Regions from separate parts of the Homo sapiens genome. Here regions 1 and 2 are each reported to be linked to region 3. The links are microRNA targets in miRTarBase. Many come from high-throughput screens and were not tested one by one. Region 3 holds a microRNA gene; each other region holds the end of a gene's coding sequence.
Evidence for each region. The annotated mature microRNA hsa-miR-6765-3p reads UCACCUGGCUGGCCCGCCCAG and lies in region 3 at 2,861-2,881, opposite strand. An mRNA with a match to its seed (bases 2 to 7 or 8) in the 3' UTR can be bound and repressed. Matches are read on the target gene's strand: a 7mer-m8 pairs with bases 2 to 8, a 7mer-A1 pairs with bases 2 to 7 and ends in A, and an 8mer does both.

Region 1: miRTarBase lists VMA22 as a target of hsa-miR-6765-3p. The part of its 3' UTR that is shown has no 7-base or 8-base seed match.
Region 2: miRTarBase lists LDLR as a target of hsa-miR-6765-3p. Seed matches in the 3' UTR shown: 7mer-m8 at 2,486-2,492.

What each region holds. Positions count from the first base shown.
Region 1 is chr2:130,335,326-130,339,325 of GRCh38, forward strand. It overlaps VMA22 (vacuolar ATPase assembly factor VMA22), which reads right to left. Exons shown (of 5, transcript NM_032357.4): 5 at 2,608-3,907. The coding sequence ends at 3,795. TRE-TTC1-1 (tRNA-Glu (anticodon TTC) 1-1) reads right to left here and starts at 1,874; the gene lies at 1,803-1,874. RefSeq lists an enhancer at 1,602-1,661.
Region 2 is chr19:11,130,546-11,134,545 of GRCh38, reverse strand. LDLR (low density lipoprotein receptor) reads right to left here. Exons shown (of 18, transcript NM_000527.5): 18 at 726-3,265. The coding sequence ends at 3,230. Among named protein-coding and RNA genes, the nearest start is that of MIR6886, 19 kb to the right of the region's middle.
Region 3 is chr14:105,147,918-105,152,066 of GRCh38, forward strand. It overlaps MIR6765 (microRNA 6765), which reads right to left and starts at 2,947; the gene lies at 2,861-2,947. It overlaps JAG2 (jagged canonical Notch ligand 2), which reads right to left. Exons shown (of 26, transcript NM_002226.5): 7 at 4,021-4,140; 8 at 3,709-3,822; 9 at 3,366-3,479; 10 at 3,074-3,187; 11 at 2,948-2,994; 12 at 2,687-2,860; 13 at 1,253-1,403; 14 at 1,020-1,172; 15 at 828-941; 16 at 409-522; 17 at 199-312.

The sequences.
Region 1 (4,000 bases), not on the chromosome of region 3:
AGGCTGTGTTTCTTGTTTGCTGTAGCTGTAAATGTCAGAGGCTAAAATTTCCTCTAGTGTCCTTGTTTTTGCATCCCCTGTTGCCTTTGGGTTTCCCTAGAGACTGCTTCTTACATAAATTCTGGGCCTTGCAGTTCTTTCAGCTGCAATCCCTTGTTAATATATAGGAGCCCTAAGTGATGTGGCAGTAAGATGTGGGGACAGCAGGGAGTGGTCTATAAACCCATGATCAGGGCCCAGTCTTGTTGTGAACCAGTGGTCCCTAGGCTGTGCCACTCACAAGTGCTTCTCAGCTTTTTTTTAATGTGAGTTGGAAGACTAAAGCAGACTGGAGGTGGATATTTTCCTTCCCTTGGGTTGGGTAGGCTCTGGTAGTTGCTCTGACTTTAAGCCTTTGTTAAAGAGGACAGGACGTTATGTGTGCATTTCAAAGTGGTTACACTTTCCTCCCCTTGCCAGAAGCTCCAGCAGATTTTTCTCTGATTTTCACCCAAGAACAAGATAGAATTCCTGGAGCTAAAACCCATGAGACTGTGGGGGCCCCTTAAGGCTATGTCCCCAGCATCTTTTCTCTCTTATGCTTACATGCCCAGGCTCTAGCAGTTAGTCAGTTACCCTTTAAGTTTTCCTACAGGTTGCTGGCTGCAGCAGCAGCTTCTGTGCCTGGCAAGCTGTAGCTCTGTATTTGCCTTTCCTTCTCATTTTCAGGGGAGTGGTTTGCCACGTGACCTCAATTTTCTGAGGAATCGAAGAGTTGTTGATTTTCCAGTTCGTTCAGCTTTTTTCTTGTTGTAAGGATGGAAGTGATGATTTTGAAGCTCTTTATGTGCCAGAACAAAAATTTTCATTGGTATGCTTACTAGTGATAATTATAAAAAACAAAGGTATGAATGAATGAATGAATGAGTGTGGCAGTAATTGCTGAAGACATGACCTCAGCCTTACATACAATCTCCCTGGATTAATTGAGCAAGCCAAAAAACAATGTCTTTTTTAGTTAAGAGGTCTGACTCTGTAGCCCAGGTTGGAGGGTACTGGCATGACCTCGGCTCACTGCAGCCTCAACCTCCTGGGCTCAGGCGATCCTCCAGCCTCAGCCTCCTTAGTAGCTGGGACTGAAGCTGCCGCCTCACCCAGCTGGGTTCTCCTTTCCACCGGACATGTGTTTGTGTGCTGGCACGAAGGCATCATTGAAGTTTGAAGTTGGTTTTCTGCTGGGGGAGTGGAGTCAAGCCCGGACTGTCCCAGTGAGAAAACGGGAACCCTGACTACTGGACAAAACAAAGCAGCAGCAAGAGAGAAAGGTAAATTTTTCCAGAGTGCTATGCTCCCAGTAGACTTCCTAGGACTTCCTATCCCTGCCTTGCAGAGGCAGCTCACGGACCCGAGGTGGCTCCTGCCAACCTGAGCAAGTGCGCTGGAGCGTGATGGAGGCCAGTGGGGATCTGCCTTCTGCTGGGGGTTCCACAGCAACACATTTTGAATATTTTCAATGTTATCGGGCATTTCACTACTTCTAATATTCACATCTGCGATGTATATAGCATCTAATATACTCAGTAAGCTATTGATGGTCAAAACAACTAGCTAATGTCATGATGAAAATGGTCACTGCCATCAAAACACACAGCGATGGGGCCCGGATCTCCCTGGGCCTGTTTCTCCAAGTTCAAGTGAAGAGGAAATACCCAATCTGGCCTGGAGCGTTCTAGTGGCGAAAAGTCAAAGTTCTTCTGGCGAACATTTTCAAGTTGAAAGAAAAAAATATACACCCGCAAAAAAAAAAAAAAAAGCCACTTTTGTTCCCATACCGGGAGTCGAACCCGGGCCACCTGGGTGAAAACCAGGAATCCTAACCGCTAGACCATATGGGAACTGCTGAAAGGTGACGCCACCGTGTCTGTATACGTGACATGCGTCAGCTTCACCGCCAGCGCCTCCCAACTACCACTGCGCAGCACTGAGCTCCTGCTGTCCCTGTAGAAACTCGTATGACTGCAGCCGTGCCAGACTCGCTGCATGAACCCAGTCTCTCGACTTAGCCCTGGTGGGACAAGCCACTTCCCCACAGAAGCCAGAATCCCCTTTCCTGGCGGTCTCCCCAAGAGCTGGAGTTAGGGCAGAAGGTCAGGGCAGCAAGTTAAGGATGCTTTGCTAAAGATTTGCTGTCTTCATCCAACCCTATTTGCAGAGCCCATGGCCTCGCCCTGATAGGAGGATGGCCACCTGTGAGTCCAGCCCCAAGCCAGCAGTGGGAGGCACGTGCCCACCCCAGTGTCCGCCCACAATCAGCAGCGAAGGGCGTGCTCCACGGGGTCGCACCTCCTCCTGGAAGAATTTGTGGCCCCAGCAAAATTGACTTATTTTTTTCCTTACTTTGGCTTCAGAATCTCACTAACTGGAACCTTGTGGATAGGATCTTTGTTACAAAAGGCAACCTTTGGTGAGGTTTGGGGGCAGATACCCGTTTTTCCTGCAGTCACAGGGGTTCCATTTGAGTTCCCCCATTAGTCTTTTCCCTGGCAACTCAAGGTCAACAGGGCCAATAAACGACCCCTCAACCCAACGCGAATCTGCCATACAGGGATTATGTTAAAGTTCAAGAAGTAAAACAATGTGGTACTGGTGTATTGACAGTAATGTCCACGAAACAGAATGAAAACCCCCAAATTACATTAGGTTTACACTGGGAGTTAGCAAAACAAAAGGGCAGCATTAACCGACATACAGCACGTGGGAGGATGGTGGAAAAGCTGGACATGACTCACTGGACATTTCAACTGAAACCACAGAGGTTCTTGAAAATGCTGGAGAATTCCCTGATTGCCTTATCAGTTACAAACCCAAATTCAGAATCATGTGACAGCTGGATACATTCAACTGTACGTACAAATAATGATCAAAAAACACAAAAGTTGGGTAGTGGTTACCATAGCTTTTACTGTAGTTATTCATTAAGCTATTCAACTGTTCTGTGCAGTTTGATGTTTTATTTTACAATAAAAAGTCAAAAAAAATAAGCAAAAAGATAAACTGGAAAATAAGACTTACATCTCATATATATGGACAAAGGACCAATTACCTCCAAACATAAACAGCTCCTAGAAATTACTGCAAAGATCAACAACCCAGTAGAAAAATGAATGAAGTTCCCAGAACAGAAAACACAAGTGGCCCTTCAAAAAAATGAAGAGAGGCTCAGCCTCTTATGGTAAGACAAAGAGACAGGATTTTAAAAACCTAGGCCTCTTCCTAGAGTTCCCTTAAATATCTAGGCCAGATCATTTTTACTTCCTGGCTTAGACCCTGCCAAGGGCTGCCCAGCTACTCAGGTGTTTGTGTCCTTGTGGACTCAAGTCATATTGTCCTGATCTTTTGGCTGAGTACGGTTTTCTCCTCCAGCAAAGACAATTTGGAGGATGTACTAAGCATGAAGCGCTACTTCCTGGCCCCCATCTCTCTTCGCACAGTGTTCCATCATCCAGCCATGAAAGCACAGCTGAGTGATCCAAGAGGCAGTTCCAATTGTTGACTAACGTGTACCTGCCTATGTGAGTGTGTCCTATGGGAACTCAGGCCTTAGAATGGTTTCAAAGTAGTGGCTTTCAAAATTACTGTTTGCCTCTTCAAACTTCACACCTAAGGAAAATGGAAACATGCAGAGCAGGGACACAGAAGGGGCATTAGCTGGCGTGGGGTAGGGGCAAGAGCTAATTGTGAAGGAAGAAGGCCTGAGATCACGTAGCCATGTCGGAGAACAGCTGTGCTCGCTGCCCTGCCTCTTTGCGCGCATGTCAGGCAGCCCCAGGCTCCAGCTGCTTGAGTTTCTCTTGGAGTCCCCGGAGCTGGCTTCGACCCCAGTCAATGCGGTTCTGGAGGCTGGCTATGTCTGCGGCCAGCTGCAGGCCTGGAGGAAAGGAGAGAAGGTCACCATGGTATCTGTAGTGTAACACACGACCCAGGAGGATCTGGATATCCCCAGAAATTGGAAAGGCTTCAG
Region 2 (4,000 bases), not on the chromosome of region 3:
TGAAACCCTGTCTCTACTAAAAATACAAAAAATTAGCCGGGCGTGGTGGCGGGTGCCTGTAGTCCCAGTTACTCAGGAGGCTGAGGCAGGAGAATGGCATGAACCCGGGAGGCGGAGCTTGCAGTAGGCAGAGATCACGCCACTGCACTCCAGCCTGGGCGACAGAGCAAGACTCCATCTAAAAAAACAAAAAAATTAGCGTTGGCCACCCGCGGTGGCTCACGCCTGTAATCTCAGCACTTTGGGAGGCCGAAGCAGGTGGATCACAAGGTCAGGAGATCGAGACCATCCTGGCTAACATGGTGAAACCCCGTCTGTACTAAAAGAAGTACAAAAAAAAATTAGCCGGGCGTGGTGGCAGGCGCCTGTGGCCCCAGCTACTCAGGAGGCTGAGACAGGAGAATGGCATTAACCTGGGAGGCAGAGCTTGCAGTGAGCCGAGATCACACCACTGCACTCCAGCCTGGGTGACAGAGCGAGACTCTGTCTCAAAAAAAAAAAAAAAAAAAAAATTGGCCAGGCGTGGTGGCACTCACCTGTAATCCTAGCTACTAGGGAGGCTGAGGCAGGAGAATTGCTTGAACCTGGGAGGCGGAGCTTGCAGTAAGCCGAGATCATGCCACTGCACTCCAGCCAGGGGTGACAGAGCCAGGCTCCATCTCAGGAAAAAAAAAAAAACAAAAAGAAGCGCGCGAACAGAAGAACGTGCATCGAGTTTAGACAAATTGGTTCATTTAAGAAATTTAATTGATCACAGTAAGACATTCAGGCTACAAAAACCTTCTATACAGTGGTTTAAAAAGTGACACCCATCTCCCAGAAGCCACTCATACATACAACGGGGACATCATTCTCCCAAAAAGCGTTGCACACAGTCCAGTTCGTGCAAATAATCTTTGTACATAAAGAAGAGGCATTTCAGAGGCAATAACCCCCTACACAGGGCCCCGAGAATAGTCACTGAACAAATACAGCAACCAGGGTTTGCAAAAATAAATAGATTTTATATATATGTGTGTATATATATATATATAAGTGATAACAGTTTCAACCAATATACAAAGTGCAAACATAACAAAAAATCCCCACTATCTGTACAGGGACGCATTTACGTGCTCCGAAACCAGAAAGGCTTATCACGGTTCCCTGCACTGGGGGGGACACAGTGTTTTGTCCCTGGGGACAATTGCCAATCCCTTGTGACATCTTCACGCGGGAGTCTGACGGAGGCTGTCACTGTCTCTCCGGACATCAGTGCAACAGTAACACGGCGATTTCAGAAAGAACCTGAAGTCCCGTCAAACGATCCAGACTGGAGGATTTATTTATTTTTTTATAGTTGTATTTCTGAAATAGGGTCTTCATCTGTTGCCCAGGCTGGAGTGCAGTGGCTCGATCATGGCTCACTGCAACCTCCACCTCCTGGGCTCAGGCGATCCTCCTGCCTCAGCCTCCCAAGTAGCTGGGATCACAGGCACGTGCCACCGTACCCAGCTGATTTTTAACTTTTTGGTTTTTGTAGAGATGGGATCTCGCTTTGTTGCTCAGGCCTGGTCTCCAACTCCTGAACTCAAGTGATCCAGCTCAGCCTCCCAAAGTGCTGGGATTACAGGCGTGAGGCACCTGTGTCTGGCCAAATTCATTTTTTAAGAGATGGGGTCTTACTATGTTGCCCAGGCTGGAAAGCAGTGGCATAATCATAGCTCACGACAGCCTCAAATGCCTGAGCTCAAACCATCCTCCCACCTCAGCCTCGCCATGCCTGGCCAGAGGCCATGGGCTGCTGATGCACCATGCATGGTTTTTTTTTGTTTTTTTTTTTTGAGACGGAGTCTCGCTCTGTCGCCCAGGCCAGACTGCGGACTGCAGTGGCGCAATCTCGGCTCACTGCAAGCTCCGCTTCCCGGGTTCACACCATTCTCCTGCCTCAGCCTCCCGAGTAGCTGGGACTACAGGTGCCCGCCACCACGCCCGGCTAATTTTTTGTATTTTTAGTAGAGACGGGGTTTCACGTGTTAGCCAGGATGGTCTCGATCTCCTGACCTCATGATCCACCCGCCTCGGCCTCCCAAAGTGCTGGGATTACAGGCGTGAGCCACTGCGCCCGGCCTCACCGTGCATGTTTTAAACACATACCCATCAACGACAAGATTGGGGAAGTGAATGGCTTGGAGGCATTTGCATAGAAGTGGAAGCACTAGGTGGGCGGACATAAAGACGACAATGGCAGTTCTCGATATTCACGATCACGGCTTTGAAGTCCCGGTCAACCTGCCCCTCTCTGTCCCCGGCATTCATTGACACGGGCTTTCCCTGGCCTGGGATCCCATCCCAACACACACGACAGAAAACAGTGCAAAATAATAACACAAATGCCAAATGTACACAGTGTACAACTCTGAACTGAGAAAGTGCAAGGAGACCACGGGAATGGAAGTGGGTAGGGGTCGGGAGGATGGGCACCAGGCTGGTGTCCTGACAGCCACACCTGGGTGCAGGCCACGTGTCCTCACGGCCAAGGTAACCGGGTGTCTCAGGCACTTAATAAATATTAAGGGTGACCAGTGACTCAGGCTCTGCCTCTGGGAAGTGGCATCATTTGGTGAATGAGTTTGGTCTCGGTGCCACCACGGATTCAGCCAGATCATTTCCGACGCCATGAATCCCTTTCCTGGCTTAAGGAAGGTACAAACCCACCTCGAAAGACACTGGGTGGGTCATGATTCGGGGGTGACAGGGCAAAGGCTAACCTGGCTGTCTAGCAAGGCTTGCATAGAAGAGGTAAACACGTTGACTCCTGAGTTTAGGGGTTTGGCTTAGAGATTGGTGGATGAGGCAGGGCCAGGGGGTCCCGTTGGTGCCATCTGCTGTTGTGTGTTGAAAGCCACTTGCTTCTCTGGGCCTGACATCCCCTCCCCTTTCATCTTCCATGTTTGAGGATTGTGTCACGGTGGAGAGAAACTCAAAACTTCCTGGAGAGAAATGGAGGTGTCATCCTGGTCCCCCCGGGCCTGTTTCTCTTATCCTTCACGAGGAAAGGAAGAAACCAAAATCCCAACCCAAGCCATTGCATGGGCACTGTCCGAAGCCTGTTCTGCCTCCCAGATGAATAAATATATAAAACAAAGCTCTGGCAGGCAATGCTTTGGTCTTCTCTGTCTTTGAATAAAACAAGGCCGGCGAGGTCTCAGGAAGGGTTCTGGGCAGGGACGGGACTCCAGGCAGATGTTCACGCCACGTCATCCTCCAGACTGACCATCTGTCTCTGCCAACAAATGGTAAACAGCGGAAACTATCAGTCCAGCATTCAGGAAACACGGCTGGAGGCCACCTACTTCTCACCTCCTGGGCCTGGCAGCCTCCCCCAGCCTGATCCCCAAGCATGTTCCCCCAGGAGCCGCCAGAGGGAGACGGTGAGTACCGGATTCAGTCACTTCCCACCGCTCTCAGGGCAAAAGCCAAAGTCCTCCCCAGTGGCCCACAAGGCTCTGCACAACCTGCCTGGTAGCCTCCTGCCTTTTTACCCCTCTCTCTGTTTGCTCCAGCTACAACGGCCTCAAACCCAACAGGCACGGTCCAGCCTCAGGGCCTTCGCACAGGCTGTTCTCCTGGTTCAGAGAAGGCTACCTACCCTAAACCCCTTGTGTAAAGATCAAGGCGGGCGCAGTGGCTCACGCCTGCAATCCCAGCACGTGGGGAGGCCAAGGCGGGTGGATCACTTGAGGTCAGGAGTTCGAGACCAGTCTGGGCAACATGGCGAAACCTCGTCTCTACTAAAAATACAAAAATTACCCGGGCATAGTGTTGTAATCCCAGCTACTCAGGAGGCTGAGGCTGAGGCATAAGAATTGCTTGAACCCAGGAGGCAGAAGTTGCAGTGAGCCAAGATCACAGCACTGCACTCCAACCTGGGTGACAGAGAGAGACTCTGTCTCAAAATAAAAAATAAAAGCAAAAAAATAAAACACCTCCTCTCCCTTCCTCCCTCCTGGCCCTCTGG
Region 3 (4,149 bases):
TCACCTGGCCCTGGGCTGGCCCTGGGTCTCCATACCGCGCCCCCAACCCAGACAGGGCAGACAGACCCGGGGGCAGGGGGCAGGGGGCAGGTGGCAGGTGTGGCCCTCAAAAAAGACCCCTCGGCCCATCGCGCCCGAGGGAGCGGTGCCTGGGAGGGCATATGCCCGGCGGTCGCAGAGGCAGCGGGGGCTCCTCACCGACGGCGCAGGTGCTGCCCTTCCAGCCGGGGGGGCAGGCGCAGCGGAAGGTGTCGCCGCTGTCGTAGCAGGTGCCACCGTTGCTGCAGGTGTAGGCATCGCACTGGAACTCGCCTGTTGGCACATGGGCCGCTCAGCAGGCAGGCCCCAGACCGCCAGGGCCAGGGTCCTGGGGGCAGCCCCAGGCGGCCAGGGCCTGCGGACACTCACGTGAGTGGCAGGTCTTGCCCTTCCAGCCGTCGTCGCACGCACAGTAGAAGTCATTGACCAGGTCGTAGCAGCGGCCGCGGCTGTGGCAGGGATCGGGAAGGCAGTCGTTGGGATCTGGGGGCGAGGACGCCGGTCAGCGGGCGGGGGGTCACCGGCGCTCAGGGAGGGCTTCCCGGGGGAGGAAGCACTGGAGCTGGGCCAGGTGAGGACAGAGAGGGGCGGGGGAGGAGCGTCGGGCCGGGGGAGCTGGCCTCGGGCATGGGGGCAGCCTGGGACTCCACCCCATGGTGGCAGCACCCCCTGGCCAGGCCTTTCTGGGTACGGGGCCTGCCGCACCCAGACAGCGGTCCATCTCAGGGTGATAAGGGGCCCACAGGGGTGGAGGCACAGGCCGTGTGGGCGGGTGCTGGAACACTCACTGGTGTCGCAGAGCTCGCCCTCCCAGCCGCTGGGGCAGAAGCAGCGGAAGGCGTCCACCTCATCGATGCATGTGCCCCCATTGCGGCAGGGCTGGCCCAGGCAGTCGTCAATGTCTGCAGAGGCGAGCGGGGTGAGCCAGGGCCTCAGGCCAGCCCAGCCCCACCACCAGCCCGCCGTTCGTGGCCACTCACTCTCATGGCAGTAGGTGCCAGTAAAGCCACTGTCACAGATGCAGGAAAAGTTGCCCCCTGGCTGGCTGACGCAGCGTCCATGGGGGCCACACACGCCGGAGGCTGCTGTGCCAGGCATCCCAGGCCCCGCGTCTGACCCGCAGCCATCGATCACTATGGCAGGCAGTACAGTCAGGAGTCAGGCCCGCCCCTGCCCCACCACCTCCCCCACCACCCCATGCCGCACCCAGCACCTCTGCAGGCCCCGCCAGGGCACGGCTCGCGGGGCACGGAGCAGTTCTTGCCACCAAAGTCATCAGGGCAGGCGCAGTAATAGTCACCCTCCAGGTTATAGCAGCGAGCGCCGTTCCGGCAGGGGCTTGGCTCACAAAGGTCGACATCCACCTGCAGGGTGGGGGGTGCCTGTGAGAGCCTAGGCCCAGGCCCAGGCCGGGAACACAGGCCAGGCCTCTGTCCATACGAAGGTAGATCCCTGGGGACCCCCAGGCCCCTCCGCCCTGGGCCTAACAGTGCCAGCCAGAGCCCAAGACCCCTGCCCACCTGAGACTGCCCAGGCCTTAGCTGAACGCAGATACCTGTGGGCCCCCACCCCCACCTCCACTGCAGCCCAGCTTCCTCACTGTCCCTCGGGAGGAGTGTGGCCTTGGCCCCTGCTGCTGGCAGGAAGGACAGCTCCTGAGCCCCTCACACACTGCCTGGCCACCCTCAGAGCCAAGACTGTGGGTCTTTTCCAGGGCCAGCCACTGCCATGCTTGCAGGTCCTGAGGTCAGACCCCTGCCCTGGGCCCCAAGAAGCCCTCTGGACAGGAGGCCCATCCTCTGCACCAAGGCCAGGGCAGGATCGTGGGCGGCCGAGGGTGGTAGGGAGGTGGGTGGGGGGAGGCAGGGAAAAAGGGGAAGTAAGGGGAGGGGGTGGTAGGGAGGCAGGTAATGGGGAGGCAGGGTTGGGGGAGGTGGGGAAGGGGGTGGTAGGGAGGTGGGTGGGGGGAGGCAGGGTTGGGGGAGGTGGGGAAGGGGGTGGTAGGGAGGTGGGTGGGGGGAGGCAGGGTTGGGGGAGGTAGGGGAGGGGTGATAGTGAGGTGGGTGGGGGGAGGCAGGGTTGGGGGAGGTGGGGAAGGGGGAGGTGGGGAAGGGGGTGGTAGGGGTGGTGGGGAAGGGGGAAGGCAGGTTACTTTGGAGGCAGGGGGGAAGGGGAGGTTGGGGGAGGGGGTCCAGTACCAACAGATGGTCAGAGGGAGGCGAGAGCATCAGCCCTGAGAGAGATGCCCACTCCGACCCAGGACTCACCTATGACAGGTGTATACCTCTCCACCATCAGGCACCCACCCTACCCCATGTGCTCTGCCCACCAGAGCCCCCTGCCCTCCAGTCCCGAGGGAGTGCACAGATGGACAGATAGGCCTGGGCAGCCAGCAGCCCGGGGGCTCCTAGCCCAGGCCACCAGGAAACCCATCACAACAAGCAATGGCCACAGGGGGCCAAGCCTGGTGACCTGTGACAGCCCCGCCTGCCCACCTGGCACCCAGTGGAGAGCTGAGCCTGGGACGCCTTGGGGACAACTTCCCCTGCAGCACCCCTGGGTCACTCAGGCCCCATGGTCAGGGGACGAGGCCTGCCCTACAGCTCCCAGAGCAGCAGGTGGGGCAGGGTGACCAGGCAGACCTCACCTCACAGAGAGGCCCGGAGAAGCCCTGGGGGCAGTGGCAGTGGAAGCCGTCGGCCAGGTCCTCGCAGAGGCCGCCGCTGTGGCAGGGGCTGCTGGCACACTCGTCTCGTTCCAGCTCGCAATGCCGGCCTCCGAAGCCCCGTGGGCACACACACTGGTACCCGTTCACCAGGTCCTGGGCGGGCCAGCCAGGTGAGCGTCCCGCAGGCACCCTGACGGCCCCGCAGCACCCACGCCACACACCCTCCTGGCCCCGCCTCACCTTGCAGGTGCCCCCATGCTGACACTGCCCGCGACAGTCGTTGACGTCTGGGGGCAGAGGAGCAGGGTCAGAGGCGGGGTCCCATGTGCCTCGGCCCACCCGCCGGCGCCCACCCCCCATACTGACTGATATGGCAGTTGATGCCCTTCCAGCCCGGGATGCAATCACAGTAATAGCCGCCAATCAGGTTTTTGCAAGAAAAAGCGTTAAGGCATGGCTTCCCTTCACACTCATTGGCGTCTGTGAAAGAGACAAGGTGGGAGCCGTGGGGCTCGGGCCCTGCCTGCCCCCTGCAGCACGGGCACCTGGCACCCGCAGCCCAGCAGCCCCAGCAGCCCCAGCAGCCCCCGCAGCCCCAGCAGCCCCCGCAGCCCGCATGCGCGGCCCACGTTCCCATGCACTCGCTCGGAGCCCTTACCCAGCTGGCAGGTGGCCCCCACCCACTGCTCGGGGCAGATGCACTCAAAGCCGTCCACCTGGTCCACACAGGTGCCACCGGCCGCACACGGGTTCGAAGCACACTCATCGATGTCTGCAGAGGGTGGAGAAAGGTGGGGCCCTGGCAGTGTGAGCCGTGGGAATAAGGTCCCCATGGGCAGGTGGCGCTGCAAGCCTGGGTCTTCCTGCCATTTGTCCTCGCCAAGCCAGCCGCAGCCACACGTGTGGACTTGACCACTGCACCCCATCCCCAGCGAGTTGCCCCACTCCCAGACCCCCACTGATACTAGGCAGGAGTCCCCTACTCACGTGCAGACACTCACCAAGGGCACAGGTGGGCCCGCTCCAGCCCGATGGGCAGTGGCATTCGAAGCCGGACGGCACCTCATGGCAAGAGCCCCCGTTGGCACACGGGTTGGAGGTGCAGGCGTGCTCAGCTGTAGAACCGCGGGGAGGGGGCAGAGCTGGCAGCCAGGCCCCCAGCTTTCCACAAGCACTCCTCCCCAAGCCCACAGGTTCCCAAGCTGGGGGTCAGGGGCCCACCACACAGGACGCCAGAGGGATGGGGCCTGACCGGCTCCCCAGGGAACCAGTCCCTGCCTGGCCAGAATTTGGGTGGCCAGCCCCCCACGTACCCTTCTCACAGTTCCTGCCCGAGTAGCCGTCAGGGCAGGTGCAGCGGTACTGGTCAGGCTCGGCGTTGATGCACGTGCCTCCGTTGGTGCAGGGGTGGTGGCTGCCACAGTAGTTCAGGTCTGGGGGCA